7 linked regions of the Homo sapiens genome follow. The protein of the gene in region 1 purifies or fractionates together with the protein of each later gene. This does not show direct contact. Each region holds a gene or a part of one and is shown in the gene's direction. Other genes may lie near its edges.

Region 1 (3,906 bases):
CCAGCTTGAATTTTCCCTTTTGTTGAGTGATTTTGGGGGCCCAAGATATTTTCCTTTCACACCTTTGATGCGAACAAGCTGTTTGTTTGCTATAGTCCTACTTGTCTATTCTTGCTTTTGTTGCCTGTGCTTTTGGTGTCAGATTGATGATATCATTGCCAAAACCAATGTCAAAAGGTTTTCCTCTATGTTTTCTTTGAAGGGCTTTACATTTTCAGTACTTACATTTAGGCTTTTAATCCATTTGAAATTTATTTTTGCATATGGTGTAAGATAAGCAATTTCTTTGCAATATGGATGTTCATTTTTCCCGTCACTGTTTGTTGAAGAAACTGTCATTTCCCCTTAAATAGTCCTGCCACCCAAAGACCGTTTAACCATATTTGCAAAGTTTATTCCCAAGTTCTCCAATCTGTTTAATTGGTCTATATGTTCATCTTTATGCCAGTGCCATATTGTTTCAATTATTGTAGCTTTGTAATATATTTTGATATCAGGAAGTTTGAGGCCTCTGGCCTTCTGTTTCTTGCTCAAGATTTGTTTGGCTATTCAGGGCTTTTTGTGGTTCCATGTATATTTTAGTATCATTGTTTTCCTAATTCTAAAATGCCATTGAGGTCTTGATAGGTATTGCACTAAATCTGCAGATCACATTGTGAAATACAAATATTTTAACTATATGAAGTCTTTTAATAAATGAATATAGGAGGATTTTTGCATGTTGATTTTGTACCCTGCAACTTTACTTGGTTTTAGGAGGCTTTTTTGTGGATTCTTTAGAGCATGCCATAGGCAAACAGGGACCATTGTACTTCTTCTTTTACAATCTGTATGTTGTTAATTTCTTTTCCTTGCCTAAGAGCTTTAAGTAGGACAAGGGTTAAATAGAAATGGCAAGTGCAAACATCCTTGCCATGTTTCTGATGTCAGAGGAAAAGTTCAGCTTTTTCCATAGCATGATATTAGCTATGCACTTTACATATAGGGCCTTCAAAATGTTGAAATATTTTTCTCAAATTCTAGGTTGGCAGGAGTTATCATCATAAAATGGGTATTAAATTTTGTGAAAACTTTTTTTCTGAATCTATTGAGATGCACAGGTGACATTTATCCTTCATTCTATTAATGTGGTATATTACATTAATTGATTTTGTATGTTAGGCTATCCTTGCACCCCAGGGATAAATGCCACTTGCTTATGGCATATACTCCTTTTAGTGTACTGTTGAATTAATTTTGCTACTACTTTGTTGAGGATTTTTGCATCTACGTTTACTAGACATATTGGCTTATAGTTTTCTTGTGGTATCTTTGACAAGCTTTGGTGTAATGGTAATGCTGGCCACATAAAATTAGTTTGAAAGTATTTATTCTTTTTAAATTTTTATATAATAGCTTGGGAAAGATGGCCATTAATTTCTCCTTAAATATTTGGTGGCTTCACCAGAAGAGCCATCTTGTCCTGGGAATTTTTTTGTTGTAAGTTTCTTGATTACTGATTCAATCTTCATTCTAGTTATAGATACGCTCATATTTTCTATTTCTTCATAATTCAGTCTTGGTAGGTCCTTGTCTTTGTGAATTTTTTCATTTCTTCTAGGTTATCCAATTTGTTGGCCTATAATTGTTCTTAGTTGTCTCTTACCATCTTTTATATTTCTGTGGCATCAGTTGCAATGTCTTATTTCTGATTTCATTTATTTAAGGCCTCTCTTCTTTTTCTTAGTCTAGCTAAAGGTTTGTCAAGTTATTTATATTTTCCAAAAACTAACTCTTAGTTTTGTTTACTTTTTATATATCCTTTCCATTCACTATTTTATTTCTGAACTAATCTTTATTATTTTCTTTATTCTTCTAAATTTGAACTTTGTTTGTTCTTTTCTACATTTCTAGTTGCTTGGGATATGTATTAGTCCATTTTCACACTGTTGATAAAGACTTAACTGAGAGACTGGGTAATTTGTAAAGAAAAAGAGGTTTAATGGACTCACAGTTCCACGTGGCTGGGGAGGCCTCACTATCATGGCAGAAGGTAAAACACATGTCTCACATGGCGGCAGACAAGAGAGAATGAAAGCCAAGCCAAAGGGGGTTTCCCCTTATAAAACCATCTGATTTCATAAGACTGATTCACTACCATGAGAACAGTATGGGGGAAACCACCCCCATGATTCAATTATCTCCCACTGGGTCCCTCCACCAACATGGGGGAATTATGGGAGCTACAATTCAAGATGAGATTTGGGTGGGGACACAGCCAAACCATATCAAGGTATAAAGTGCATTGTTTGAGACCTTTCTTTTTTCTTAATGCAGATATTCATCACTATAAACTTTTCTTTTAGCCCTACTTTTACTACATCCCATAAGTTTTGTTAGACTTTATTTTTGTTTTCATTTATTCTAATGTGTTTTTAAATTTCCCTTTTGATTTATTCTTTGCAGATTGGTTGTTCAAAAATGTATTGTTAAATTATCACATATTTATTAGTTTTCCTTTTGCAACTGATTTCTAGTTTCATTCCCTTGATGCTGTAAAAGATACTTGATATGACTTCAATTTTCTTAATTTTCTTAAGACTTCTTTTATGACCTAACATATGATCTATCCTGCAGAATGATCCATGTGCACTTGAGAAGAATGTATACTCTGCTGCTGTTGGATGGAATGTTCTGCACATGTCTGTAGGTGACTTGACTTGCAGTGTTGATCAGGTCATCTGGGTCTTTGTTGCCTTTATGTTTGGTTGTTCTATCCATTATTAAAAGTGAGCACTGAAATCTCCTACTGTTATTGTATTGCTATCTATTTCTCCCTTAAGTTCAGTCAATGTTTGCTTTATACCTTTAGATACTCTGATGTTGGGTGCATATATATTTAAAATTATTGTATCCTCCAATGTGAATTGACGCCTTTATCATTATGTAATATCCTTCTTTTTTTCTTGTGACAATTTTTGACTTAAAGTCTATTTTTTATAATATCAGTAAAGGCATTTTTTGTTGTCTTTTAGTTATTATTTGGCGAAGGATTTTTGCAGTCTTCTTCAACCTTCATGCTAGTCCAACTGGCTTTCTTTTTTTCTTGGTAGATTCCAGGCATCTAGAATATCCCAGGTCCTGTCAGTGCTCTGAGATAAACAGGAATAAAGCTAGCTCCTCAGGCAATCTCCAGAAAATATGGATTATCAGTTGTTTAGTTCAACTTTTTCCCCCAAGGAGAAGCTGAGAGTTAAAGGTTTTGGTCCACTCACTCCATCTTGATCCAAGGAGTGGTTGAAACTGCCAGCTCACCCCACCATCTATGTTCTTGCTGGTCCCACGCAGCCAGGCTATGCTTGGTTCTATCAGTACACTGAGACAGGCTAGAGAGAAGCCAGTCTTAGGAGTAGCCCCTGGAAAAATTGGGGAATTGGACATGCCATCCATCATTTATTAACCAAGAGCAAAGCTGGGAGCAGGGGAGTTTCTCCCTGGTTTTTTGGCACTGTGCTGGGGGCAGGAATTAGGGAAGGAGTGTACCTTAGATTTCCCTAAGGCTTCAACATGAGTAGTTTCACCAACAGCATTGGAGCATCTCAACTAGTTTCTTAATTTCCCACAAAGAAAATTTGTCTATGAATTTTTAGTTGAATTGGTGCATTTGTAGAGAGAAAAGAGACCAGGGCTTCCCACTCTGTCATCTTGCTAATTTTACTCCACCATTTATTTTATAATTTAAATATATAAAAATAAGATACATATTTATAATTTATGTGTATGTATATGTATATATTTTAAATTTAATGTATATATAAAAACATTTGCTGTATTTCTAAACTGGAATACAATACAATGAAATTTAATTGCATCTTAAATGGACAAAACATTACCATGCGTAAATGGAAAAAATTGTGGCTGGAGTTA
Region 2 (4,786 bases), on another chromosome or scaffold:
GCTCTGCTGTTTACTGAGCTCCCGTGTTCTGGTATTCATTGACCATCTTTATTTACCACTACCTACCTTGTGTCAGGGGCTGTGGAATCCAAGATGTCTGCAACATGCTCCCCACCGCCCACACAGTCTAGTTGGGAAGCAGTTATGTCCACGTATTCGTTCATTCAGTATTTTATTTCTCATTGAGATGTAATTCACGTGATGTAAAGTCCTTTTAACGTATACAATTCAGTGGGGTTTTTTGTTGTTTAGAGACAGGGTCTGCCTCTGTCACCCAGGCTGGCGTGCAGTGGCATGATCTTGGCTCACTGCAACCTCCGCCTCCCAAGCTCAAGCAATCCTTCCACTTCAGCCTCCCAAGTAGCGGGGACCATAGGTGTGCACCATCACGTGCAGCTAATTTTTGTATTTTTTGTAGAGATGGGTTTTCGCCATGTTGGCCAGGCCGGTCTTGAACTCCTGAGCTCAAGTGATTCAGCCGCTGAAAGTGTTGGGATTACAGGTGTGAGCCACTGCCCCCAACCTTTTTATTTATTTATTTTTATTTTTCGAGATAAACTGGTTCTTTAGCCCAGGCTGGAGTGCGGTGGCGCAATCTTGGCTTACTGCAACCTCTGCCTCCCGGGTTCAATATTCTTGTGCCCCAGCCTCCCGAGGAGCTAGGATTACAGGCGTGTGCCACCATGTCTGGCTAATTTTTTTTATTTTTAATAGAGATGGGGTTTTGCCATGTTGGCCAGGCTGGACAGGAAATCCTGGCCTCATGTGATCCACCTGCCTAGGTCTCACACAGTGCTGGGATTATAGGTATGAGCCAAAATTCAGTGTTTTTTTTGTTTTTTTGAGATGGAGTCTCACTCTGTCGCCCAGGCTAGAGTGCAGTGGCGCAATCTTGGCTCACTGCAAGCTCCGCCTCCTGAGTTCATGCCATTTTCCTGCCTCAGCCTCCCGAGTAGCTGGGACTACAGGCGTCCACCACCACACCTGGCTAAGTTTTTGTATTTTTAGTAGAGACGGGGTTTCACTGTGTTAGCCAGGATGGTCTCGATCTCCTGACCTCGTGATCTGCCTACCTCAGCCTCCCAAAGTGCTGGGATTACAGGCCTGAGCCACCGCGCCTGGCCCGGTGGGTTTTTTTTTTTAGTATAGCCAGAAATTTGTAAAAATGTCACCACTAACTCTAGAACATTCTTCTCACCCCAGAAAGAAACTTCTTATCTATTAGCAGTCACTCCTTATTCCTTCCTTTGCCAACCACTATCTACTTTCTTTTCCTGTCGATTGGCCTATTGTGGGCATTTCATGGAGTCATACGTGTGGCCTTTTGTGTCTGGCTTCTTTCACCTAGCATCATGTTTTAAGGGTTCATCCATGGTGTACCAGCATGTAGCAGTGCATTATTCCTTTATGGCTGAAAATATTCTATAGATACTATAATTCTAATAATATGGATATACCACATTTTATCTATCAGTTGATGGATTTTTGGTTTCTTTCTACTTTTTTTGCCTGTTATAAATAATGCCACTATGTACATTCATGTACAAATGTTTGTGTGAGCTGGGCACAGTGGTCCATGCCCGTAGTCTCAGCTACTTGGGAGTTGGAGACAGAAGAATCCCTTGAACCGAGGAGGCAGAGGTTGCAGTGAGCCAAGATCGCACCACTGCACTCCAGCCTGGGCGATACAGCGAGACTCTATCTCAAAAAAGAAAAAAACTATGTATTTAATTCGTTTGATATTTACTGGGAATTTACTAAAGATCAGGCACTGTACCAGACACTGGGGAATCCATAGTAAATGAGTTTGGTGTGTTGTCTTACCTGATAAAACTTACTAGTAGAAAAGACAGACATTAAATAGATATTAAATAGATATTACACAATTAATGTATTATTTTTGTGAAAAGTGTTAAAAGGAAAAGTACTGGTGTTACCAGAGGCTGTAACCGATTTGAAGAGGAGGAGAGGAAGGGAGCAAAGTGAACAATAAAGAACGTGGCAGTGGCCAGGTGTGGTGGCTCACGCCTGTAATCCCAGCACTTTGGGAGGCCAAGGTGGGCCGATCACCTGAGTTTGGGAGTTCGAAACCAGCCTGACTAACATGGAGAAACCCCATCTCTACTAAAAATACAAAATTAGCCGGGCATGGTGGCGCATGCCTGTAATCCCAGCTACTCAGGAGACTGAGGCAGGAGAATTGCTTGAACCTGGGAGGCAGAGGTTGCGGTGAGCCGAGATTGTGCCATTGCACTCCAGCCTGGGCAACAAGAGCGAAACTCTGTCTCAAAAACAAACAAACAGAAATTTGGCAAGGCAGCGTTGGTGGCAGCTGGTGCAGGACAATGAATGACGTGTTAAGGAATTTGGACATTCTCATAGAACAGAGGGAAGCCTCTGAGGATTCTTTGGCAGGAGAATGATGTGATCAGTTTGTGTTTAAAGTATCAGTTGAGTGTGGTATGAAGAGCAGATTGGTGGGGCAAGAATGAATGCAGGGAGGGCTTCCTTGAGGTTTGCTGTAGGAGTTCAGGTGAGAAAGGATGGCAGCCTGGGCTTGCTTAGATGTGGGTGGAGACAGGCAGACTGACACAAGAACACTGCTTAGGCAGAAAATAACAGGACTTGGAGACTGGATGTGAGGGATGAAGGAAGTGTTAGGAACTGCAGGCTGGGCATGGTGGCTCACGCCTCTAATGCCAGCACTTTGGGAGGGCAGGGCGGGAACGTTACCTCAGGTCAGGAGTTCGAGACCAGCCTGGCCAACGTGGCAAAACCCCGTCTCTGCTAAAAATACAAAAATTAGCTGGACGTGGTGGCGGGCACCTGTAGTCCCAGCTACTCAGGAGGCTGAGGCAGGAGAATGGCTTGAACCCGGGAGGTAGAGGTTGCATTGAGCTGAGATTGCGCCATTGCACTCCAGCCTGGGCAACAGAGCGAGACTCAGTCTCAAAAAAAAAAAAAAAAAAAAATGGGGAACTGCATTCCCCAGGCTGGATGCGGTGGCTCACACCTGTAATCCCGGCACTTTCGGAGGCCAAGGTGGGTGGATCACCGGAGGTCAGGAGTTCCACACCAGCCTGGCCCATCTCTACTAAAAATACAAAAATTAGCCAGGCATGTTGGTGCGCATCTGTAGTCCCAGCTACTCGGGAGGCTGAGGCAGGCAAATCGCTTGAACCCGTGAGGCAGAGGATGCAGTGAGACAAGATTGTGCCTTTGCATTCCAGCCTGGGCGACGAGCAAAATTCCGTCTCATGCACAAAAAAAAAGAACTGCATTCCTGGATTGAGCAACTGGTTGGCATTTACTGAGACAGGCAATACTGGAGTAGATACAGGTTTCCTGGCTGTGAGGGTGCTGATAATCACTATTTCAATGTGGACTTTTTTTTTTTTTTTAAGAGAGATGGGGTCTCACCCTGTCACGCAGGCTGGAGTGCAGTGGCATGGTCATAGCTCAAACCCCTGGGCTCAAGCAGTCCTCCTTATTCAGCTTCTTGAGGAGCTGGGATTATGAGCATTAGCCACCACGCCCAGCCAGTGTGAACATTTTGATCTTGTGATATCTGTAAGACGTCTAAGTGTTGTTGGATATACAGGTGTGAGCCTTGGGAGACATCTGAGCTAAAGATACAGATGTGGCTATCTTTGCCTGTAGGTGGGCTTTGAAACCACAGGTGTGGATGAGATTGTCAAGTGTGAGGGTGTGGACAGTAATTGACCCCTAAGGCTGGTAGACAGTGAGGAGCTGGAGAAGTAGGAGGAAAATCAGGCCAAGGGAAGTGGTCAGCTGTGTTAAAGTTTGCCGAAGGTAAAAGAAAGAATATGACCAATGCCAAAGAGATGTGTGTCCAAGGTCTAGGAGCATCTTTCACAGAGGAGGTGGTGGGGACCCCATTTCCCTGGGGATAAGGAGTAGGGCTTGTCAAGAGACGTTTCTCAGAAAGCAGTTTCTGGCCAGGCGTGGTGGCTCACACCTATAATCCCAGCACTTTGGGAGGCCAAGGTGGGCGGATCACCTGAGGTCAGGACAAGCCTGGCCACCATGGTGAAACCCCATCTCTACTAAAAAAATACAAAAATTAGCCAGGCGTGGTGGCGGGCGCCTGTAATCCCCGCTACTCTGGAGGCTGAAGCAGGAGAATGGCTTGAAAGCGGAAGGCAGAGGTTGCAGTGAGCTGAAATCATGCCACTGCACTCCAGCCTGGGCAACAGAGTGCGACTCCGTCTCAAAAAAAAAAGAAAAAGAAAGAAAACAGATTCTTGAGTGGGGATGGTGTCAGTGGTTTACACCTGGGTCTGATGGAAACATCTCTGTTCCAGGCCGAGACGCATCCAGAGCTTTCGTGACCGGGGACTGTTCTGAAGCAGGCCTCGTGGATGACGTATCCGACCTGTCAGCCGCTGAGATGCTGACACTTCACAATTGGCTTTCATTCTATGAGAAGAATTATGTGTGTGTTGGTAAGTCGTCCATAGGTCATACATTTCATTTGGTTGTCTGCAGTGTTTTTAGGGGGCTGAGATTTTTTAGGGATTGGGTTCAAGCTTAAAATCTGAAAAACAGCCATGGATTTGTTTTACTTTAAATTCTGGTCGTTAGAATAGGGATGAGCCGCCCAGAAGGAGATGGATGGGCACCTGCTTCCCCCACTCTTAGTCTTGGGAGAGGATTACTAAGCTGCTTGCTTTGGCCTCAGTTTCGCCATAGCCAGTGGTTGCTTGCACCATCCTTGAACAACCAGCTCCAGAAGGGCAGCTTCCCTGTCTCACTGTGTTCGATG
Region 3 (4,786 bases), on another chromosome or scaffold:
AAACCAATTCATTCTTATGAATCACCTTGATTATTTTTAACTGGTTAGACACATGCATGTCATGTGACTACATGATAAACATGTCTACCTCAGGATATAAAGCCTGTGATAAAGTACCTTTCTGAATTAAGATATTTTTAATGCAATTTTATCACTGACAAGCAGTTCACCAGCAATGCCAAACTTTTAGAAATATCTACCTTTCTTTGACCCTCAGCTATTCTCTTTGACACTTCCAGGAGAAAGATGCTTACTTGAAAGAATATGAACATGAAAATTCACCTGGATACCTTTTGACCAACTAGACCAAATTAAATATTGAAGTTTTCTCTTATTGTAGATTATATCATTAAGGCATTTAACTTTACTTAGTCATTGTGACCAAGACACTTCTGTGCCTCACAACTTAGTTGGTCACCAAGTCTTATACTTCATAAAAAACAGAGTTTGCATGACAGAGTCAAATGACTCATTTCCTTATATTAAACAGATTAGGAACTACAGTTCCAAAAGTCTTTTTTGATTTTATTGTTGTAACAATGTGTTTACATTCCTGCTTGTCTTGGTTTAAAATCACACTGAATAGTGCTAAGTCACTCTGAATAGCAAATTTCCTTCGACTTTGTGGGAAGCTTATGATGTCATATGAGCATTTCAGAGTATCACAGTTCCTTAAGGCTAACTACTTTGATAAAATGTGATGTGCACAGTCTGATTACAGAATTTAATGGATATTACTAGGGAAACTTGCTCTTATCAAACTTATCAAACATATGTGATTGAGAGTTCATGTGAGCTTTTATGGCTAAGTGCCAAATACAGTGCTAGTAAGTATTGACAACACTAATCATGAGTTTTACAGTGTTAGAAGTCTTTTTTTTTTTAACCAAAAAAAGATCTTCAAAGTAGTATATGCTTCATGAAGGCTTTTTCATTTTAAACACTCTGCATTATTTAAAATTGTTATAATGAAATAATAATAAGTATTTTTTTCCTTTCCTGAAATTCCTCTATCAGGAATGCACTTCTATTCCTTTTGGTTATCTCAATCTTATCTGCTCTTCAAAGGTCATCTTAAATCCTTTCTTTCCCACAATTAATTTCCTGTTTATTCTAATTTATGTTATTTCTTTCATCTCTAAATTCTTCTGAAAATTCTATCTCTGCTTCACATTTGGCATTGAGCATGATACCTTCTATTCTTCCTTAATATTTTAGGTGTCTATATTTTGTTTCCCTTTTAAAACTGCCAACATTTCAAGCATACAAAGATAAGATCTTTTTGTAACCCATATACTACTTAGGTCAGTGCCCTTTTTTTGGCATATATTAAATTATTTTTGAATAAGTAATTGAAAGTTTAAAGTTACAATATATTGTGTACAACATACTCAGCATTCAAATGCATGTACTACTTATTGACTGCTGGCCTGTCAGGCTGGCGGGCTTTGGAGCTTAATACAGTTGGACTTGACTCCGTCTTCAGCCATGTATTAGTTGTGTAACTTTGGCTCATTGCTTAGCATTATGATGAACATGATCATTCCATATAAATATAGCTTATATCTTACAGTAGCACAGATAAAATATTCATATATTAATTTATTTATTCCACAAACTGCTACTGAATGGTAAATGGCAATAAAAAGAGATCTAAAATGAAATCAGCCACAATTTCTGCTCCCAGGTAGCGGATAATCAAATGTTACTTTAATTTAAAAAAAAAAACTACTTTTCTCTGTGTGTGTGTGTCTGTTGACAGAGGAAAGTACCTTTGTATTCTAGAAGCTTTTAAAATATGTTCATATATCTCTTTGTCATAACATACTCATATTGCTGAGTTGGCCTTTTAAATAGGCAGAATAACAAATGACATGAGGAGGGACAAAATATCTAAGTATGTAAATATTTCTCTTCTTTTACTAATACCCATAGTTCCTAAGTACTTCCCATTAAAATTATACCTTTAGATTAAGTTAGTATTGCCAGAAATAATCTGTAAAACACAGATTTCAAGGACAGAAATATTATCTATCTGTACACAGCAGGGGTCATTAAACCGAATTTGCGTGTGCACTATATATTCAATATATATTGGGTTTCCACTATATGATAGACACTGTTCTAAACACTGGAGGTAAAACTGTGATTAAGATAGATATGATTTTGTACCCTTAGAGCTCAGAGTCAAGTGGGAGGAAATCATTATCAATCGAGAAATCACATAGGTAAATATAAAATTGCTATTGTGATAAGCACTGTGGAAGACAGGCCAAGGGCTTCAGTATGAATATACTCCAAGAGATCTGGCCCAGTCATAGGTTGGAGAAGTTTTCCCCTGGGAAAGGAAAATTGAACTAAGATCTGAAGTATAAAACATAGTCAATTAGTTGCAGAGGCTGCAGGCAGAGAAGATTCATATCCTTCTAGTGGGAAGAAGCTAACTGAAGAAGTAGGGAGAGCTTAGACCAGATGGAGCCTTGAATGCAATGTGAAGGCTTTTTGCATATCCTGAACATATTTTGAAAGCACTAAAATGACATAATCAGATTTTAAATTATACATAAAAAATTGTATAAATGATGGAGAATAGGATAAACAGTTTTGTTTGGGGAAGATGGGAGGGTGTCTAGGAAAAGAAGAAAATGAAAAACCTTATGCCGCTCTCCAGTATCAGCCGGCCAAAGTTGGGAACATGTAATGCTGGTTGGTTTTCTGATAATCTATGGATCGGGCATGAATGTTGGGTAACCACGAGAAGAAAGAGAAGCTAAAAAGGAAGTTTGGCATAAGAAATTAGATAATTGCTGCCGGGCACGGTGGCTCACGCCTGTAATCCCAGCAGTTTGGGAGGCCGAGGCAGGTGGATCATCAGGTCAGAAGTTCGAGACCAGCCTGACCAATATGGTGAGACCCTGTCTCTATTAAAAATACAAAAAATTAGCCAGGCATGGTGGCATGCACCTGTAATCCCAGCTACTCAGGAGGCTGAGGCAGGAGAATTGCTTGAACACGGGAGGCGGAGGTTGCAGTGAGCTGAGATCGTGCCACTACACTCCAGCCTGGGGGACAGAGTGAGACTCCATTTCAAAAAAAAAAAAAAGAAATTAGATAATTGCACAGACTTGCATGTTTATGGAAAAAATATGCATTCATATATACATACATCTAAAATGAAAAGGTCTGTGCAATTTTCTCATAAAAATATTTGAAGAATTAAAATAGAAAGATGTATTACCTATATTTCTATATACCTGAATTTATTTCATATTCTTGTCTCATTTATATTTTCTTAATTGTATCAGATTATAATAAATCTATTATTTTTAAATTTATATTTTATATCTGAATGTTACTATAGGATTAAGAATAATCACTTGACTTTGAGTTTTTGTCTGTACAGAAAAAATAAAACAATGTCAAATATTTAGGCATGTATTTGCAGGGAACACTTAATACTAATTTTTTAGGTTGAGTGTTGTGTTCATTCTTTTGACTATGCCCTGACACATTAGATCTGTATGGCATTAATTAATTCATAATATGGCTGAAGTTTACTTACTGACTTTTTGAGAAAGAAGATGGCTTCCTGTAAGCCTAGCTCTGTCAAGATCTCATGTAATAAACCAGATTTTTAAGGAAAAGTCAAATATGGGAGAGCAGGGGAAAAGTTGATAGTACTTACCCTTGTTCCCAAGAATATGTGAAGTTTAAAATCTAGCCACCAGTGTTACAGGAAGTACTTCATTTGGAATGTCTATGGCAACCTAATCAAGTACGGAATTCTGAAAACTATGGACTTTCATATTTAACATGTTCCATATGCTAAATACACTCAAGGTAGAAAAAATTAATGAAAATGCAGTTTTTTCCCCTGTGGTTAACCTAAATATATACATTTTTTTTTAGCCCTGCAGCTACTGCTGTGATATCCCTGGCATTTGGACGCTACATTCTGGAACCATTTTTTATTCAATGTGAAATCCCTGAACTTGCGATCAAGCTCATTACAGCTGTGGGCATAAGTGAGTATTATAGCTATATATGTGAAAAAGGAAAAACAACACAAAAATGATTGAAGACAAAGTGTCTTTAGACTTTTTGCATTGCGGGATTGCCTCTCACATCATGTTCTTTTTGCTTACAGTTCCAAATTTCTACTGGAAGGATTTGGAGTGGGATCCAATACTGTATTCCATGCCAGTTTTGTATTTGGTCAATAGATATGATGGCTAATCTTTTTAAATAGTAAAAATCACCTTACTAGTAAAATATTAAGTCTATTATACATGAACAAGACTTTTAAAGAGAAAACCCCAATTATTTTAGAGACTACTTGAATTGGAAATTAGCTATATATTGAATTATATCTCATGTGTAATCATGGAGTTACCTTTATGTAGTGGGTGTTTAAGTTGTACTTATACATTTTGTAGTGTTAGCAGCTGTCACTCCCAGTGTTATAATGTCAGCTGCCTGTTGTTGGTCATGAAAAGAATTTTCTTTTAAGATTGATTATTAGTAGTATTTTCTAACTAGATTTCTTTATGGTCTCCAAATTAAGAAGTTGTTCATCTTTTATCAATGGGCACAAATATTCATTGATTAAAAAAAGAAACAAAAAGAAGAACATGTACAAAATTGCATGAGTGATATGAAGCCATATATGACTCTAATTCCCCAAAAGATGCCAGGTACCAAATCCTTAAATATGGGAAAGGATAACTTAATTCTAGGTGCCATTTGAATCACTGTCTTAAGAATCAATATGATCACATTTAACCGA
Region 4 (4,786 bases), on another chromosome or scaffold:
GGGGAACCTGACACTGCTGCGGGCCCACGTCACGGGCCCTGTGGAGGACAACGAGAAGTGCTACCCGCCGCCCAGCGTGCAGTCCTGCCCCCACGGCCTGGGCAGTACTGACAACGTCAACAAGCTGCTGCTGCTGGACTATGCCGCTAACCGCCTGCTGGCCTGTGGCAGCGCCTCCCAGGGCATCTGCCAGTTCCTGCGTCTGGACGATCTCTTCAAACTGGGTGAGCCACACCACCGTAAGGAGCACTACCTGTCCAGCGTGCAGGAGGCAGGCAGCATGGCGGGCGTGCTCATTGCCGGGCCACCGGGCCAGGGCCAGGCCAAGCTCTTCGTGGGCACACCCATCGATGGCAAGTCCGAGTACTTCCCCACACTGTCCAGCCGTCGGCTCATGGCCAACGAGGAGGATGCCGACATGTTCGGCTTCGTGTACCAGGATGAGTTTGTGTCATCACAGCTCAAGATCCCTTCGGACACGCTGTCCAAGTTCCCGGCCTTTGACATCTACTATGTGTACAGCTTCCGCAGCGAGCAGTTTGTCTACTACCTCACGCTGCAGCTAGACACACAGCTGACCTCGCCTGATGCCGCCGGCGAGCACTTCTTCACGTCCAAGATCGTGCGGCTCTGTGTGGACGACCCCAAATTCTACTCGTACGTTGAGTTCCCCATTGGCTGCGAGCAGGCGGGTGTGGAGTACCGCCTGGTGCAGGATGCCTACCTGAGCCGGCCCGGCCGTGCCCTGGCCCACCAGCTGGGCCTGGCTGAGGACGAGGACGTGCTGTTCACTGTGTTCGCCCAGGGCCAGAAGAACCGCGTGAAGCCACCAAAGGAGTCAGCACTGTGCCTGTTCACGCTCAGGGCCATCAAGGAGAAGATTAAGGAGCGCATCCAGTCCTGCTACCGTGGTGAGGGCAAGCTCTCCCTGCCGTGGCTGCTCAACAAGGAGCTGGGCTGCATCAACTCGGTGAGTTGGGCAGGGGCGCCCCTCCTCCCGCGGCCCCATCCCCTCCAGGGACGACGGCATCGGTGTCAGATGCACGCCCAGTGGTGCCTGCTGTGTGCCTGGCCTGGCTTTTGGCTTGGCCATCCCCATGGCTCAGCTAGGTGGGGCTGCCCTTTTCCATCCCCCAGAGAGTGGGTTTGGACCCAGGGTGCTAGCCCCAAAGGCTGCTCCCAGCCATGATGCTGTCTTGTGCCTCAGAAGATGGGGTGACGAGGCCCTGCTGGCATAGTCCACAGCCCCTGTGGGACACTGGACAGAGTGCCAGCCACATGCCTGGTCCTACACCTGGTGCTTGCCTGCTCCATCTTGTCCCCATCCTACAAATGAGGTTATAGGATCAGAGAGGTGGGGTAACTTGCCCTGGGTCACACAGCAAGTGAGAGGCTGGTGCCAGAGCCTATCAGGTGAGCCCAGACACCATTTCCATGGAGCGCTTGTGTCCCCCACATGACCCTGGTGGCACCTGCCCGCTGGGCCTCTGCTTTTGCCCAGCAATGGGAGCTGATGGTGTCCTGGTGCAGGCCACAGTTAACAACTTGCAGAGAAAGTGACCCTGACTGCAGGGAGCCACAGCCCCCAGCACCCATCAGAAGGCACAGCTGGGGTGGGGCCTCTATCTCGCTGCCTTTCAGGGAGTGTCTTGTTCACACTCCTGGGCAGGCTCAGAGGGCACGGGCCTTGCTTAGGGTGGAAAGTGAAGGGGCTGGGACTCGGCCCAGACCTGGGACCCCCGAGGCCAGGCCTTCTGGGCTTGCTGCTGGGGGTCGCTGGCCATCGCAGGGGAAGGCCTCGCCCTCTCTGGCTGTAGTCTCCCATGTCTGACCTGAGGGTGTTGCTGGTTTTGTCCTCAGGGCAGAGTGGGACTGCAAGGGCCCCTCAGTCCTTCCGTCTCACGCTCACTGCCTGTGTGAGGCAGGGCCCATGTGTGCTTGGCAGATGCGGTTGTCCACCCTCCCCTTGGCTTTTCAAGGAACGTGTTTTCTCTGCACCATACAGATGGAGACACTGAGGCTTGTAGGGGCAGAGCCTGGGTGAAGCCCCACCACACTCTCTCTTTGTGCCCTGCCCCAAGGCTGGGGCCTGCTCTTTCATCCCTGGGGACAGTCCCCACTGCCCCCTCCCACCTGTTCATTCCATGTGGCCTAGCCCTGGCCCAGCCTCCCCTGCTCCTTCCTCCTGAGCAGCCTGGCCCCTGCCAATGAACCCTCTGCAGACAAGGACCATCTGCCCCACTTCTCCCCACATCCCTTCCCTGCCTGCCCTGCCCTCTCCTTAGGCCTGGCGGTGGAGCAGCGCCCCCTCCACACTGGCCCCCAGCTGCTCCGGAACCTCAAGCTATTGATTGCTTTCTCGTGCTCTTAGCTGGGAGCCCGCCCTCTGCCTTTCAGGTGTGATCTGCTCCCTCCTGTCTTAAACCCTCTCTGTCTGCACCTCTCCTCTGGGGGCTACCCCCAACCTCTCTAGAAAGACAACTGCACTCCCAGCCCTGCCCAGGGAGGCCCAGTCCTCCGGGAGAAGGTGCCCGGGGAGTGGCTCTCACCCTGCCCCTTCCCACAGCCCCTGCAGATCGATGACGACTTCTGCGGGCAGGACTTCAACCAGCCCCTGGGGGGCACAGTCACCATTGAGGGGACGCCCCTGTTCGTGGACAAGGATGATGGCCTGACCGCCGTGGCTGCCTATGACTATCGGGGCCGCACTGTGGTATTCGCCGGCACGCGAAGTGGCCGCATCCGCAAGGTCAGGCCTGGGTGGGGTGGGGTGAGGAGGGGGCTTGGGGCAGGAACAAAGGCTTGCGGCCGTCCCAGGTGGCAGGCCCAGTGCTGCTGTATGCTGTGGGAGGCTAGATCTGGCGTACAGGGGGCAGGGGGAATGTTGCCCTACACTAGGCCCAGTGACCTTGAAGGGCCCCACTCCCCTCTGTGCCTCTGCCCATGACTGGCCCCAGGCCCACTAAGCAAGGACACTTTGAGACCACGCAGGAGCCTGTGCAGGGGCCCAGGGATGCTGAGGCGGGGGCTGGCTCTCCAAGGGCACTTGACCTCCTGGGGAGGCTGCTGTGTGTGGGTGGTGAGGGCAGGCCTGCGCGGCCCCCTCCCCTCTGGGCCCTGCTCCCCAGCCAGGAGATCCAGTGTCTGCTGCCTCAGCACTCTGCCGGGCCAGAGGCCTTGGCCCTGCCTCTCCCCAGCCCCTCTACTGGGCCAAGGGCAGGGCAAGGGTAGTGCCCCTGCCTGTCTTTGGCTGGTGCTTGAGGAGCTCCAGCACACAGCCCTGGGCTGGCCCCACGGTGGCAGGGGGAGGGCTAGGTGCTACAGGGATGGCTGTCTGGTCTTCAGGGTTCTCCTTTCCTTCCCCAGAACAGTGGGCTGGACAGAGGCAGTGCAGAGCTTCCTGGAGGGTGTGGGTGGAGGGGAGCTGCCTGGGCTGGGGTGGGCACCAGGCTGGCCTGGTGTGGAGGAAGCTCCCGGAGAGACTGAAGGGTGGGGATACTTGGACACCCCAGAGGCCCAGTGGGCAGTGGTGGGTCCTGGGGTGCATAACCGGCACCAGAGGCTGGTGCCGATGCAGCTCCCCTGAGCCCATGTGTGCCCGCGAGTGGGGCTGGGCCGGGGGCTGGCCAGGGCTTGCAGCTCTCAGCCCGGTGCCCAGTGTTAGGAAGGGGGCCTCCCATCTCTGCCATGGTAGTTGCCCTGGGAGTGGTGGGGAGTCCTGCCCCTCCCTGGCTCTGTGATCTCTGGGAGGGGATCCCCTGCAGCCTCAGCTTCCCTCTGTGAAATAAGCCAGATGTTCAGGCTCTGGGCTGGGGGCGGGGGGTGCTGGTGGTCTTGGGGCCCGTGGGGGCCCAGCTGCTGATTGTAGGCCCCCCAGGGTGGGGGTGCCCTGGGGTCCTGCTGGTTCTGCTCATAGTGGCTATGAGGCTGAAGCTGATGGGGAAAGTCCTGTGACCCCTGAGTTGGGTCCTCTGCTGTGACTTCCCTCTTGGCCCCCATGTGGGGTACCGCCCTGTGGCTCTGGTGCGAGGCCCCTCCCGTCCTCTCAGCCTGCACTCCCTCTCCTCACACTGGAAGGCACACAGGGCTCTCGAGCGCATGGGGTGGGTGTTGGAGTGGGTTTTGCCAGACAGAGGACCGTGCTTGTGTGGAAGCCCAGTGCAGCAGCTTAGAGACATTTTGTGGGGCGCCCCAGAGCCTGTTACCCAGCCAGTGACCAGGTTCCTCTAGCCCTACCCTGTTCCTGCTGCCCAGCACTCACCCTCTTGTGCCCCAGGGGCACCGTTTGGGTCAGAGCTTTGCTGAGGGAGCAGCAGGACACAGCTGTTCCTCTGGGTGCCAGTTGGCCTGTCTCCCCTGCCTCCTCACCCCAGTCCCACAGAGGGAAACTGAGGTACAGAACAGGGAACTGCAGAGTTGGGCTTGGGCCCATCTATGGGAAGAGGCTGCTTCTGGGTTGAGATTCTACCAACTCTTCCCCTTCTTCCTGCCCCCATTCCTTCTCCCAATTTTCCCCTTCCCACCCCTAGTCCCAAGGAGGACCGTTCTCAGGGAGGCAGGTATGGGTGGAGCCTGTCCTCTGCTCCCTGGGCCAGGTGCCTCCTTGAGCCTGGCTTTGTGGGCAGCTGCTGGATGGTGCAGCTGGGAAGGTGGAGGCTGCGTCCTCATGGCCTGACATGGCTAGTTCCTTCCTGGTGACCCTGGCCGGGCCCCCACCCCTCAGAGCCCCAAGTTCTCCTCAGAGGCTCTAGGTGCCCATACCTGCCTCCCAGCACCCAACCTGGGT
Region 5 (4,059 bases), about 100 Mb from region 1:
AATGACTGTTGGCCAAATAAAACACAAGATGGCATACAGTGAGACTTTAAATGATGCTGTGGAAATCTATTCCTTAACATGGAGAAATTGCTCACTATATACACTTAAATTTAAAAAAAAAGACTGTGGCCAGGTGTGGTGACACTCCCAGCACTCTGAGAGGCCGAGGCAGGCAGATTGCTTGAGCCCAGGAATTTGAAACTAGCCTGGGCAATACGGCAAAACCTCATCTCTATAAAAAATAAGGCTGGGCGCGGTGGCTAACGCCTGTAATCTCAGCACTTTGGGAGGCTGAGGTGGGCGGATCACTTCAGGTTAGGAGTTTAAGACCAGCCTCGCCAACATGGTGATACCCCGTCTCTACTAAAAATACAGAAGTTAGCTGGGCATGGTGGCACATGCCTGTAATCCCAGCTACTTGGGAGGCTGAGGCAGGAGGATCACTTGAATCCAGGAGGCGGAGGTTGCACTGAGCTGAGATTGCACCACTGCACTCTAGCCGGAGTGACAAAGCAAGACTCCATCTCAAAAAAAAAAATTAAAATTAAAAAATTAAAAATAGTAGCCAGGTGGGGCTGGGTGTGGTGGCTCATACCTGTAATTCCAGCACTTTGGGAGGCCGAGGTGGGCAGATCACCTGAGGTCGGGAGTTCGAGTCCAGCCTGACCAACATAGAGAAACCCTGTCTCTACTAAAAATATAAAATTAGTTGGACGTGGTGGCGCATGCCTGTAATCCCAGCTACTTGGGAGGCTGAGGCAGGAGAATCGCCTGAACCCGGGAGGTGGAGGTTGCGGTGAGCCGAGATCGCACCATTGCACTCCAGCCTGGGCAACAAGAGCGATACTCTGTCTCAAAAAAAAAAAAAAAAAGTAGCCAGGTGTGGTGGCACACATTTATAGTCCTAGCTACTCAGGAGGCTGAGGTGGGAGGATCTCCTGAGCCTGGGAGGTCGAGGCTGCAGCGACCTGTGAGTGTGCCATTGCACTGCAGCCTGGGTAACAGAGCAACACCCTGTCTGGGAAAAAAAAAAACAAACAAAAACAGGCTGTTAGCTTTGATGCAAAATAATGTTTTGTTGTTGTTGTTGTTGTTGTTGTTATTGTTTTAAGCAGGCTGGCCGGGTGCTGTGGTTCATGCCTGTAATCCCAGCACTTTGAGAGGCCAAGGCAGGCAGATCACCTGAGGTCAGGAGTTCAAGACCAGTCAGGCCAAAATTATGAAACACCCCATCTCTATTAAAAAAATACAAAAATTAGCCAGGTGTGGTGGCAGGCACCTGTAATCTCAGCTACTTGGGAGGCTGAAGCAGGAGAATCACTTGAACCCCGGGAGGCAGAGGTTGCAGTGAGCCGAGATCGCGCCACTGCACTCCAGCCTGGGCAACAAAAGCGAAACTCTGTCTCAAACAAACAAAAAGGCTACAAAACCATATATAGAGTGTGGCTCCCGTTTTTGGAAAAAATAAGTATATATAAAAAAACTATAGAAGGATAGAGGAGAATATCCACCAAATATTAACTAGTGGTGACTAGATGGTGGGATTCTAGGTGCTCTTACTGTCTTCTCTTTTTTTGTTCTGAAAACAGGTAGTTTTTCTGCCATGAGATAAATTATTTGTGTAGATTGTTTTTAGTGAAAAAAAAAAAAAAAAACTAGGCTGGGTGTGGTGGTTCATGCCTGTAATCCCAACACTTGGGGAGACCAAGGCAGGAGGATTGCCTGAGTCTAAGAGTTTGAGACCAGTCTGGGCAATGTAGTGAGACCCTGTCTCTACAAAAAATTGGAAAGTTAGCTAGATGTGGTGGTTCTTGCCTGTGGTCCCAGCTACTCAGGTGGCTGAGGTAGGAAGATTGCTTGAGCCCGGGAGGCGGAGGTTGCAGTGAGCCAAGATCACGCCACTGCACTCCAGCCTGCGCAACAAAGTGAGACCCCGTCTCCAAAAAAATAATAAAAAAAAGAAGGAAAAAGAATAAATAAAACAAGAAAAAAAAAGGAATACTTAGAACCTTTTCTGATGCCTTGTGACTTTCAGAATTTAAAATCCCCCTTGCAGATAAGGCCACCCACGGCGGAAGGCCGGGAGCGAGACGGGGCTGAGGGGACCTTGCTCCCATTGGAGCTGCAGGGCAGGAAGGGGTGCTGCGGTCAGCAGAGGGCACCCTTCGCCTGCGCCGTGTGCAGTGCCTGCAGTCACTCCCTCATTCCCAGGAGTAGCCTTGGGTCAGATGCTGGCTCAGATCTATAACTGCTCCTGTCTGGTAGCCAGGCCTGCCCAGATGTGCAATGGCTGGAATAAAGGGTTCTTGGAAGCAATTTGTTACAGGCACCCTGTGGGCTGTGGCTGGCTGTGGCACACGTGAAGGTTGTGTGTCAGACCTACTCCCTGGACATGGCGCATGGCTGCACACAGGCACCTTGGCTGAGAAGATGCACAGTCCTGGTTTCACTCTCCTCCCCTGCCCTGTCCTGTCTGCTTCCACCCAGCTCTGCAGGCCACCAGCCCCCGCCTCTCGTGGCCACCCCCAGCCCAGCATGTCCTCAGCCGCACATCTCCTGTGTCGACAGGTGAAGTCCCGCTTGGCTTTTGGGAAGCCCCTGGTGGAGCAGGGCACAGTGCTGGCGGACATCGCGCAGTCGCGCGTGGAGATTGAGCAGGCACGGCTGCTGGTGCTGAGAGCTGCCCACCTCATGGACCTGGCAGGAAACAAGGTAGGGGCAGGGGCACGAGGGGGCCTCCCAGAGGCAGAGATTCTTCCTCCTCACTCAGCAAAGCATGAGAGCCTGGCTTCTTGACATTAGAAACTTTATTTCACCTCTACTTGGAGCTGTTTGGGCAGTTTTTCAAAAATTGGAAAGGCACAAGAAGAGAGGACTGGCCTTTGTGTTTTACTGACCTGGTGAGCTGCTTAGTCCAAGGCAGTGGGTCTGATGGGGCCACAGGGCCCCTGGGTGGCCCTGGACTCCCAGGGCCATTGGTGGAGGTGTTGGGCAACCTAAGAGTAAGGCAGGGAAAAGGGACCCTCTGCTGGCCTTCATCTGAATATTGAATTAACAAAAATAGAAGCTTATTTTCAAGTGTGACATTAGTCATTCACTAAGGCTCTTTTTAACCTTTTATTTATTTATTTTTTGAGACAGGGCCTTGCTCTGTAGCCAGGCTAGAATGCAGTGGTACATCATGGCTCACTGAAGCCTCAGCCTCCCAAGTAGCTGGGACTCCAGGCGCAAACCTCCATGCCCAGCTAATTCTTTATTTTTTGTAGAGACCGGCTCTCACCATGTTGCCCAGGCTAACTAAGGCTCTTTCTAAGTGCCTGTGATGACCAAGCACAATGCCATGTTGACCTTGCTTTGTCCAGCTTTCTGTGGGGCAGCCTCCAACCCCACCCAAGACCCTCAACCATCAGGGACCAACCCATGCTCATGCTCACAGTTCCTGGTTCTTTGACGCTGGCGTGCTAGATATGGTGGAGGCTGCTGGGTGTCTCCCTTGAACACCCTGCCCCAGGGCAGATCACTGTAGCTCGGTTTCCCAGAGCCCTGAGTGGCCTTGGTCCACTGCTGCTTGGAGGCAGAGCTGGCCGTGACCCTGAGCAAAGCACAGGACCCTCCCCTTATCCCTTCAGTGTGTGCTGGCTGTGTTCCCCGTCATCTGGGAAGACAGCCACATTCTGCCAGCACTTGCTTCGCATCTTGTGACATAAGATAATAGTTGCCAACATGGCGCCCTTCATCCCTGGGTGCTGTCAAGCCGTACACCAGGCAGGGGCAGCCTCACCCAGCTCACATCAGCGAGACCTTGGGGCCTCTGTTTTGGACGGTGGTGTTTGACTTCTTGCTGGGAATCTGATCATTCTTCCAGGCTTTCTGCCTTCGGGTCTTTTTTGTGGTTTAGTTTTTCGTTTTGTTTTTGAGAGACAGAGTCTCACTCGGTGGCCCAGGCTGGAGTAGAGTGGCACAATCTTGGCTCACTGCAACCTCCGCCTCCCGGGTTCAAGCAGCTCTCTTGCCTCAGTTTCCCAAGTAGCTGGGACTACAGGTGTGCACCATCACGCC
Region 6 (3,689 bases), on another chromosome or scaffold:
TGGCATGCACCTGTAGTCCCAGCTACTCAGGGGGCTGAGGTAGGAGGATTACCTGAGCCTGGGAGGTCGAAGCTGCAGTGAGCAGACATCATGCCACTGCACTCCCAGCTGAGTAATAGAGAGAGACCCTGTCTCAGAAAAAAAAACAAAAACAAAAACAGTAGGTGGCCTAACTGGAGATATTTAAAACAAATTTTTTAGATGAGAACATTTTATCTTTCAGTTCAAAATTTCAGGTAGAGCTAGGAATCTGGAAATTTGTTTAGAGATTCTCTAGTCGTTGTAACAAAACTGTGATTTTTTTTGAGTTCTTAAAAGTAGCATTCAATCTTATGATTTTTGAGGATCTCAGTTTCAGAATTCAGGTCCAACTGAATATATTTTTATGTGTAGTATCAAATGAAATGTGAAAGTGCTTTGTAAACATCAACATGCTAGGTAACTGTTATCTGGCCATCTAATAATTATATTTGACCTTGAGATAAGGAGACTGCATGAGATAGTTTTACAGTTGAAAAATTAAATACTAAGTTTTAGTTATGACATTTGTATGCTGTAGTTTTTGTGCATGTGGGATTTCAGATGCCAGTATATCTCTCTGCTCTAGCAGTTGTCCACTTGCAACCCAATGGCTCCCCCACTCCCCACTTTACATACAGCATAAGTGCTAGTTCACATCTTAGCTCCATCTTTGTAGTTATTATTATTATTGATTGTAACAGTTTTATTGAGTTATAATTCACATCATAAAGTTCACCCACTTAAAGTGTAAAATTCAGTGGTTTTTAGAATACTCAGAGTTGTACAGCCAGCAAACACTACAGTCAATTTTAGAATATCTTCACTCCAAAGAGAAACCCTGTAGCCACTAGCAGTCACTCCCCTTTCCTCCCAAACTCCTTAGCCCTAGGCAACAACTGCTCCTTTTTGTCTGTAGATTTGCTTATTCTGCACATTTTATATAAATGAATCATACAATATGTGGTCTTTTGTGACTGGCTTCTTTCACTTAGCATGTTTTCAAGGTTCATTTATGTTGTAGCACGTATGAGTACTTCAGTCATTTTGATGGCTAAGTAATACTTCAGTGTATGGATATGGCATATGTCATATATCCGTTCGTTGATGGACATTTGGTTTGTTTCTTTTGGCCATTGTAGCTAATGCTGCAGTGAACATTTGTGTACAAGTTGTATGTAGTTTCATGTTTTCAGTTATCTTGGGTATATACCTAGGAGTTGAATTACTGTATCATATGATAACTCTATTTAATGGTTTGAAGAACTGCCATACTATTTTCTTAAAGTGCCTGAACCATTTTACATTCCTGCCAGCAGTGTATGAAGGTTCCAGGTTTTCCACATTATAATTATTATTTTTTAATAACATTTTCTAGTGGTTAGCATCAAAGATAATATACTTAATACTGAGTACATTGCAGTTGATAGGGAAGTGATGTTCTACATGCTTGGTTCCTGGGCTGCTGGAATATCAGTCTATGGCTAAGTTTCTTAAAAAGAATTCATAAGGCACCAACAGATAAACTGATAACTTTTTTTTTGCCCCAGTCTTTGAGTTGTTCATCTTTTAAAGCATGTTATTGTCCACATTTTCTTTAAAGAAATATAAATTCAGTGACTTTTGGTGTAGTGATTCACTTGAGTTTAATAATGCCGTAAGTATTGTAGGTCATGTGGGCTGAAATGCTTTGATAATTTGGGTTGGGAGAAGAGACTTTTGAACCTAAAGATGTGAGTTGTGATTGGTATTACCTTTTAAGCAGTCATGTTTAATTTTTGATTCTTTAGGAAAGCCAGCCATTGCTCATAGAGATTTGAAATCAAAGAATATCTTGGTAAAGAAGAATGGAACTTGCTGTATTGCAGACTTAGGACTGGCAGTAAGACATGATTCAGCCACAGATACCATTGATATTGCTCCAAACCACAGAGTGGGAACAAAAAGGTATACTTTTGAACAACTATATTTAATATCTTCTGAAATCACCTTTTTTCCCTTCTCTTTCATATATACATATCATTGCTGAAACTCAGCTTAAACTTGCACTTTATTAGATTGCCAACAGGTAAGAAGATCTCATGGTCTTGCCTGCTCTGAAGCCAGAGTTACCTGACTTAAAAAGATGCCTGCTGATGAAAGGTTGCCCTTCCAGAAAATATCATTAGGCATGTTAATTATAATAACAGTAGTAACTAACGTTTATAGGGCACCTACTATGTGCCAATCGTCTAATAGGTCTTTTACGTATATTACCTCATTTAATCCCTTCTCAAATACTGTGCAGTAGCTAGCCCTGCTATTTTCATATTTCAGTTCCTAAAAATATGCCTTTCTTGCTTTCTTAGAACTTTTGCACATGCTGTCTCCTGGAGCATACTTTACCCTACTGTTTCTCAGCCTCATACCCACCTTTCCCGTAGGAAGTTTTTTCTAGTCCTCAAAAATCTTAGGAGTCCCTGCCAGGGACTGTCATAGCACACTGAACTGGGACCGTTGAGGCACTTATGCGTTATGTTGTAACTGTTTATTTATTTGCCTATATATTCTATTAGGTGCAAGCTGCTTGAGAGCAGCCTTGTATTCCCAGCATCCATCACAGTGCCTAATACATGGTAGATCCTCAGTAGATATTTGTTGAGTCCATGAGTCTTCAAAAGAACTTAATTAGGTAGGTGTTATTACCCTTTAATTCACAGATGAGGAAACCACCTTGAGGAGGTTAAATAATATGGCCAGCTTCATGTGGATGATAAGCCGAAGAGCTGAGATTTGAACCTGGGCATTTCTGACCCAAACCCCTTATCACAAGCTGTCACAGCATTTTTTCAAACTACTGTCTTGGCCTTGGAGACAGCTGGAGAGCCAGCAGCATTAGTCTATTCAAATTGCATGTATAATTTTGAGATTTCTGGATTCCCTGGGGACTCTCAATTTTCCCATCCAAGTACTAAGCAGGCCCGACCCTGCTTAGCTTCCAAGATCAGACGAGATCGGGCGTGTTTAGGGTGGTATGGCCGTAGATGACTCTCAATTCTCAACCAGCTAAGGGGTCCTTGTCAGTGGTTGCTGTAGGTCTCTGTGGGTCCTGACCCATAATTTTGGTAGGTTTTTGAAGCTTCAGTATGAGGACTGGCATTCTTTTGTATCTATTATTTTTTTCCCTGGAGTATATTCGTGCCCTTCCTTTCATCCTCAGTGAGAAGACTTCTAAATTAAAATGCATGGTTTCTACCTAGTACGTGTATAGGTGGTGTACATTAGGACACCTTTAACAGTCACAATTGTTATGTATGTCTTTCATTGGAAACCAAGATCATGAGGCAGATAGTGTGAAACTGCTATTTTAGCATTTTGTGGGATTTAGTTGACATCATTAATGTGCAAACCAGTGTGGATATTTAATATTTTTCTTGAGTCTAATATTTGTTATGTAATATTGTGTACATATGTCTATGTATAAAGAAATGTCTGAAAGGAGGTTCATCCAAATATGGCAGTAAGGGGATGATTTTCAAAGTTCTTTTTGCAAATTTTTTTTAGGTACATGGCCCCTGAAGTTCTCGATGATTCCATAAATATGAAACATTTTGAATCCTTCAAACGTGCTGACATCTATGCAATGGGCTTAGTATTCTGGGAAATTGCTCGACGATGTTCCATTGGTGGTA
Region 7 (4,786 bases), on another chromosome or scaffold:
CAAGACTCTGTCTCGAAAAATAAATAAATAAACCTAATTTTAATCAAAGGGCAATAGCAAAAGAATTTATCATATGGATTCTTTGAGAGGAAGCATGCTGCAGTAACGAGCCGGCTGTTTCCAGGTCCTTTATTAACCATATTGGCCTAGAGGTTTCTGCGGTGATGATCCGTGTGGCCGTGGCATGGGAGGGCTGGCTCATCTGCGTGGGGTCTGGTAAAGGCTTGGAGGAGATGCAGGATCAGGCACAGTGAAGTTATTGGGGCTGTGATGTGTTTCAGTCAGGTCACTTGGACAAACTGCACTCTGAGATTGCACGCAACCCACTGTTGGGTTAATGTGTGCAGTTGGTTCCATTTGTAAAAGGTAAATTTAGATACTCGCTGTTGTGTACACAAGGTAAAAGTTAATGTATTATGGGGTGAGCACAGGTACCTCCCTCCACCCTTGAGGCCTTAGGGTTGCCAGGGACCGCCAGACTCCAGAGTTCCTTGGGAAAACCATGATGCAGAGCAGGGGATTATAGGTAGGGTGAGACAGGCTTACCTGGGAGCGTGCCCGGGCTGAACACCAGCCTCCATCTCTGAAAAGGCCCCCTGGTAGGGTCAGACCCACACACCTGTCCAGGAATCAGTGATTGAAATCTGGGGTTCCCAAGCTCTAGCCCACAAGTCAGTGGACTGTGGCTGCACCACGGACAGCCCCAGTCTGTGTGTCACCCCCATCTTCCCTAGCTCTGAGGGTGAATGTGTGGACACGGTGAAAGCAGCTGTTCTCTTCTCTGCTCAGTGTGCCTCAAAAATTGACATCAAATGCAGTTGTTTTTCAACATATTTATGTGAAGTGAGTTTTTTTTGCCAATGACTAAGATTAAAAAGAAAGTAAATTTTGGGGATTTAATTGTATTTTAGATCATAGAAAAGTTGATAAATTTGTGATGAGAGAAAATTGTATACATATTGTAAAATAGGACATTGTGATTTTTTTCTGCTTTCTAAGTATTTAAATATATCCCTTAAACAATATATTTAATTTGAAGTTGCCTCTCATCCTCCTTTAGGAAAGACTTTTATTCTGAGCTTTTCTCTTTCCTTGATTTTAGTCTTTCATGAAATGATATTAAAAATAGACTTAATAACATTTTTTTAAAAACCTGATACAGGCTCCCCAGTTTTATTATTTTATTTCACTCATCCATGAAATCCAAAGGTTTGCTCCTTGACCTGGAAGACAGGTGTAGACTGAATCAAAGAATGATAAGGTTTAAACTTCCTTCTGGTGGGGTGCAGTGGCTCATGTCTGTAATACTAGCACTTCAGGAGCCCAAGGTCAGAGGATTGCTTGAGCCCAGGAGTTTGAGACCAGCCTGGGCAACATGGTGAATCCCCATCTCTACAAAAAAATTAAAAAATCAGCTGGGCATGCTGGTGCACGCTTATGCTCCCAGCTACTTGGAAGGCTGAGGTGAGAGGCTCGCTTGAGTCCTGGAGGTCGAGTTGTGATGCTGCCACTGCAGTCTAGCCTGGGTGACAGAGCAAGACCTTGTCTCAAAAAAAAAAAAAAAAAATGTAGATTAAAAGGAACCCTTGCAGACTGTTGGTGAGAATGTAAATTGATGCAGCCGCTATGAAAAACCCCACTGCACTGCAGCCTGGGCAACAGAGTGAGACCCTGCCTCAAAACAAAAAAATAAATAGGCTGGGCGCGGTGGTTTACACCTGTAATCCCTGCACTTTGGGAGGCCGAGGCGGGTGGATCACCTGAGGTCAGGAGTTCGAGACCAGCCTGGCCAACATGGTGAAACCCCCATCTCTACTAAAAATACAAAAAATTAGCTGGGCATGGTAGTGCGTGCCTGTAATCCCAGCTACTCAGGAGGCTGAGGCAGGAGAATCGCTTGAACCTGGGAGGTGGAGGTTACAGTGAGCTGAGATCACGCCACTGCACTCCAGCCTGGGGAACAAGAGCAAAACTCTGTCTCAAAAAATAAAAAATAAATAAATAAAATTGCTTCTGTCACTGGCCCTAGCAGCTTTGGCAAATCTCACCACTTAGGGCCTCGAACTCCTCACCTGTGAATGAGGGACCTGACCATGGTCATCCCTGAAGTCCCAGCATTTAACTCGTAACATGACAAAAAGCAAACCAGGGCTGGGCACAGAGGCTCACACCTGTAATCCCAGCACTTTCAGAGGCCGAGGTGGGTGGATAGCTTGAGATCAGGAGTTCGAGACCAGCTTGGCCAATATGATGAAACCCCGTCTCTACTAAAAATAGGAAAACAAATTAGCTGGGCCATGGTGGCGCATGCCTGTAGTCCCAGCTACTTGGAAGGTTGAGACAGGAGAATCGCTTGAACCTGGGAAGTGGAGGTTGCAGTGAGCTGAGATTGCACCATTGCACTCCAGCCTGGGCATCTCAGTGAGACTCCATCTTAAAAAAAAAAAAAAGAAAAGGAAAAAAAAAAAAAAAGGCAGCATGGTAAGGCCGGGTTTTTATAGATTGGGTCTTTGGAGTGTGCTGTTGGCCTTGGCCACATAGCTGTCTCCTGCCATGCCCTGGCTTTGTGGGGCGCCTAAACCTGTTTTCAGATGATGATTTTGAGTGAGATACAAGTGTAGCTACTTGGAAAAGATTCAGTAGCATCCCTGAGCTATAGTGATAGAAACCCCGTCCTTGTCCCTTCTGTGGAGCAGCCTGTTGGAGCTTCTCTGGGTTGGCCTAGGCCCAGAGATGAGGTCAGCAGCTCAAGGGTCTAGTGTTTTTAGCTGTCTTCCCAGCCCTGCTCCAGAGCCCCCATGTAACCTGCTGCCCTGCAGTGCCCAGCACAGAGCAGTGTCTGTTGAATGCGTGAGTCAAGCAAAACATCAAACAGAATCCTTGACATGGGAAAAACATGCTCCCAGCCACCACCAGCTGAACATTGACATCCAGCTGCTTTCCCACTGGGCAGTGGCTTGTGAAGATGGGGACAGAGTATCATAAATCATCTCCTTTGTGGACAGCAGGGATGATCCTGACCTTCTTGTCACAGACTAAACAGACTAAGTAGCCAGAAGAAAAAAAAAGAAAGAAAGAAAAAAGGGGCTTAAAGGCACTCAGCTGTCAAAATTATAAGGAGGGTTTGTTAAAACTATTTTTTAAAAAAGAAAAGTGGTTAAGTTATGCAGTAGGATATAATATTCTATAATAACTTATTACCAAACTTTTAGCCTTAATCCAGTTGCTATTTTCCTCTTGTCTATTGGATAGACGTATGGAATGTTCTTTTTTTCCCTAAATTTAGTCATGTGCATTTTTTTTCCTATTTATATTGTGGGTTTTTTTTTTTTTTGAGATGGAGTCTTGCTCTGTAGCCCAGACTGGAGTGCAGTGGTGCAATCTCTGCTCACTGCAACCTCCGCCTCCCGGGTTCAAGCGATTCTCCTGCCTTCCAAGTATCTGGGATTACAGGCATGCACCACTATGTCTGGGTAATTTTCATATTTTTAGTAGAGACGGGGTTTCACCATGTTGGCCAGTCTGGTCTTGAACTCCTGACCTCAAGTGATCCACCCACCTCAGCCTCCCAAAGTGCTGGGATTACAGGCGTGAGCCACCGTGCCCTGCCTATATTGTGGATTCTATGTAGATGTTCCAGTGGCTTTTAGGAAGGTCTTTATGATTTCACACATCTGTCTACAGTCATGTCTGCAGAGCAGACTCTCCCCACTCCCTCTGCAGACAGCTGTAAAACATTGTCTTTCATCTCACAGGTATTAGCTTCCTACATGAGTAAAATCAGGTTTAAGTGAATAAAAATTGTGCATCTCTTCCCATGTACCAGGGAAGTATTTTTGGTGCCTCCAAAGACCGAGCACGGTTCACGCCTCTGCTGGCCTTCACACCGCTGCAGCCACACAGTGCAGAAGCCTGCTCCCTGCTGCCCACAAGCATGAGGCAGGTGGGAAGGGGGATGCTCGTGCCACCTTGTAGGCGGGCAGGCAGTCTCATGGGCAGAGGTGTACACAAGGTGGGTGATGAGGAAGACAGCTCTAGGGTATGAATGATCAGCTGCTGAAAAACATCCAGTGCTCAGTGTGGGTACTTAGAGTTATTCTCATAAAAAATGTGAGGCAGAGTTAGTCAGGTGTGGTGATGCATGCCTGTGGTCCCAGCTACTCAGGAGGCTGAGGCAGGAGGATTGCTTGAGCCCAGTGGTTTGTGGCTTCAGTGAGCCATGATTGTGCCACTGCACTCCAGCCTGGCTGACAAAGCGAGACCATGTCTCCAAGAAAAAAAAAAAAAATTTCTAAAAGTACTTGCTGGGTTACACTAAATGAAACCTAAAAAACAAATAGATAAATAATAAAGGTTACACACAGCAGAAGCTTTGTTAACAAATTAACTTATATTAATAGTTGCTGCTGGGAAAACAAGCTGCTTGGTGACTTCCCTAAAGGGTGTCCCACGCATCTGGCGAATGAACAGACAGAGCTCCTGCTCCCGAGTGTCCTGGGAGGCACGTGGGCATGCCGCGTGGGTGGTCTGGGTGCTGCAGCGTGAGTTGTCCTGGGTGTGGAGTGTCAGTGCCTGCAGACCCACACTGCCTCCTCCTTCAGGGCTCACTGGCAGTTTTCTTTCCACCGCTTCAGTTTCCTACTTGAAGTCAGGTTTAAAAAGGAGAAGAATTGCACATTCCTCCTCAGTTTCTTAGAAACTTACCTTTGTGCCTGAGTCATTTCTAGTCCCTCTGGACCTGAGTCATATCTGTTCGCTGCTTTGTCAACCTTGTGCCCAGTTTAAG

What was found.
Region 2: the proteins of KLRD1 (region 1) and CYB5D2 purify together in Homo sapiens (affinity purification with mass spectrometry; one large-scale study listed by BioGRID and IntAct). This does not show direct contact.
Region 3: the proteins of KLRD1 (region 1) and SLC7A11 purify together in Homo sapiens (affinity purification with mass spectrometry; one large-scale study listed by BioGRID and IntAct). This does not show direct contact.
Region 4: the proteins of KLRD1 (region 1) and PLXNA1 purify together in Homo sapiens (affinity purification with mass spectrometry; one large-scale study listed by BioGRID and IntAct). This does not show direct contact.
Region 5: the proteins of KLRD1 (region 1) and ACAD10 purify together in Homo sapiens (affinity purification with mass spectrometry; one large-scale study listed by BioGRID and IntAct). This does not show direct contact.
Region 6: the proteins of KLRD1 (region 1) and TGFBR1 purify together in Homo sapiens (affinity purification with mass spectrometry; one large-scale study listed by BioGRID and IntAct). This does not show direct contact.
Region 7: the proteins of KLRD1 (region 1) and IMPA2 purify together in Homo sapiens (affinity purification with mass spectrometry; one large-scale study listed by BioGRID and IntAct). This does not show direct contact.

What each region holds. Positions count from the first base shown.
Region 1 is NC_000012.12:10,326,823-10,330,728, forward strand, and holds the end of KLRD1 (natural killer cells antigen CD94), read left to right. Parts: 3' UTR 1-2,786; downstream 2,787-3,906. UniProt on the Homo sapiens protein: Immune receptor involved in self-nonself discrimination.
Region 2 is NC_000017.11:4,145,566-4,150,351, forward strand, and holds part of CYB5D2 (neuferricin isoform 1 precursor), read left to right. Parts: exon of another isoform or gene 1-294; coding exon of another isoform or gene 295-502; intron 503-4,325; coding exon 4,326-4,466; intron 4,467-4,786. UniProt on the Homo sapiens protein: Heme-binding protein which promotes neuronal but not astrocyte differentiation.
Region 3 is NC_000004.12:138,231,506-138,236,291, reverse strand, and holds part of SLC7A11 (cystine/glutamate transporter), read left to right. Parts: intron 1-3,909; coding exon 3,910-4,025; intron 4,026-4,786. UniProt on the Homo sapiens protein: Heterodimer with SLC3A2, that functions as an antiporter by mediating the exchange of extracellular anionic L-cystine and intracellular L-glutamate across the cellular plasma membrane.
Region 4 is NC_000003.12:126,988,818-126,993,603, forward strand, and holds part of PLXNA1 (plexin-A1 precursor), read left to right. Parts: coding exon 1-970; intron 971-2,566; coding exon 2,567-2,749; intron 2,750-4,786. UniProt on the Homo sapiens protein: Coreceptor for SEMA3A, SEMA3C, SEMA3F and SEMA6D. Necessary for signaling by class 3 semaphorins and subsequent remodeling of the cytoskeleton. Plays a role in axon guidance, invasive growth and cell migration.
Region 5 is NC_000012.12:111,751,204-111,755,262, forward strand, and holds part of ACAD10 (acyl-CoA dehydrogenase family member 10), read left to right. Parts: intron 1-2,568; coding exon 2,569-2,712; intron 2,713-4,059.
Region 6 is NC_000009.12:99,142,924-99,146,612, forward strand, and holds part of TGFBR1 (TGF-beta receptor type-1 isoform 1 precursor), read left to right. Parts: intron 1-1,808; coding exon 1,809-1,965; intron 1,966-2,573; exon of another isoform or gene 2,574-2,689; intron 2,690-3,561; coding exon 3,562-3,686; intron 3,687-3,689. UniProt on the Homo sapiens protein: Transmembrane serine/threonine kinase forming with the TGF-beta type II serine/threonine kinase receptor, TGFBR2, the non-promiscuous receptor for the TGF-beta cytokines TGFB1, TGFB2 and TGFB3.
Region 7 is NC_000018.10:12,001,215-12,006,000, forward strand, and holds part of IMPA2 (inositol monophosphatase 2), read left to right. Parts: intron 1-4,786. UniProt on the Homo sapiens protein: Phosphatase that can use myo-inositol monophosphates, myo-inositol 1,4-diphosphate, scyllo-inositol-1,4-diphosphate, glucose-1-phosphate, beta-glycerophosphate and 2'-AMP as substrates in vitro.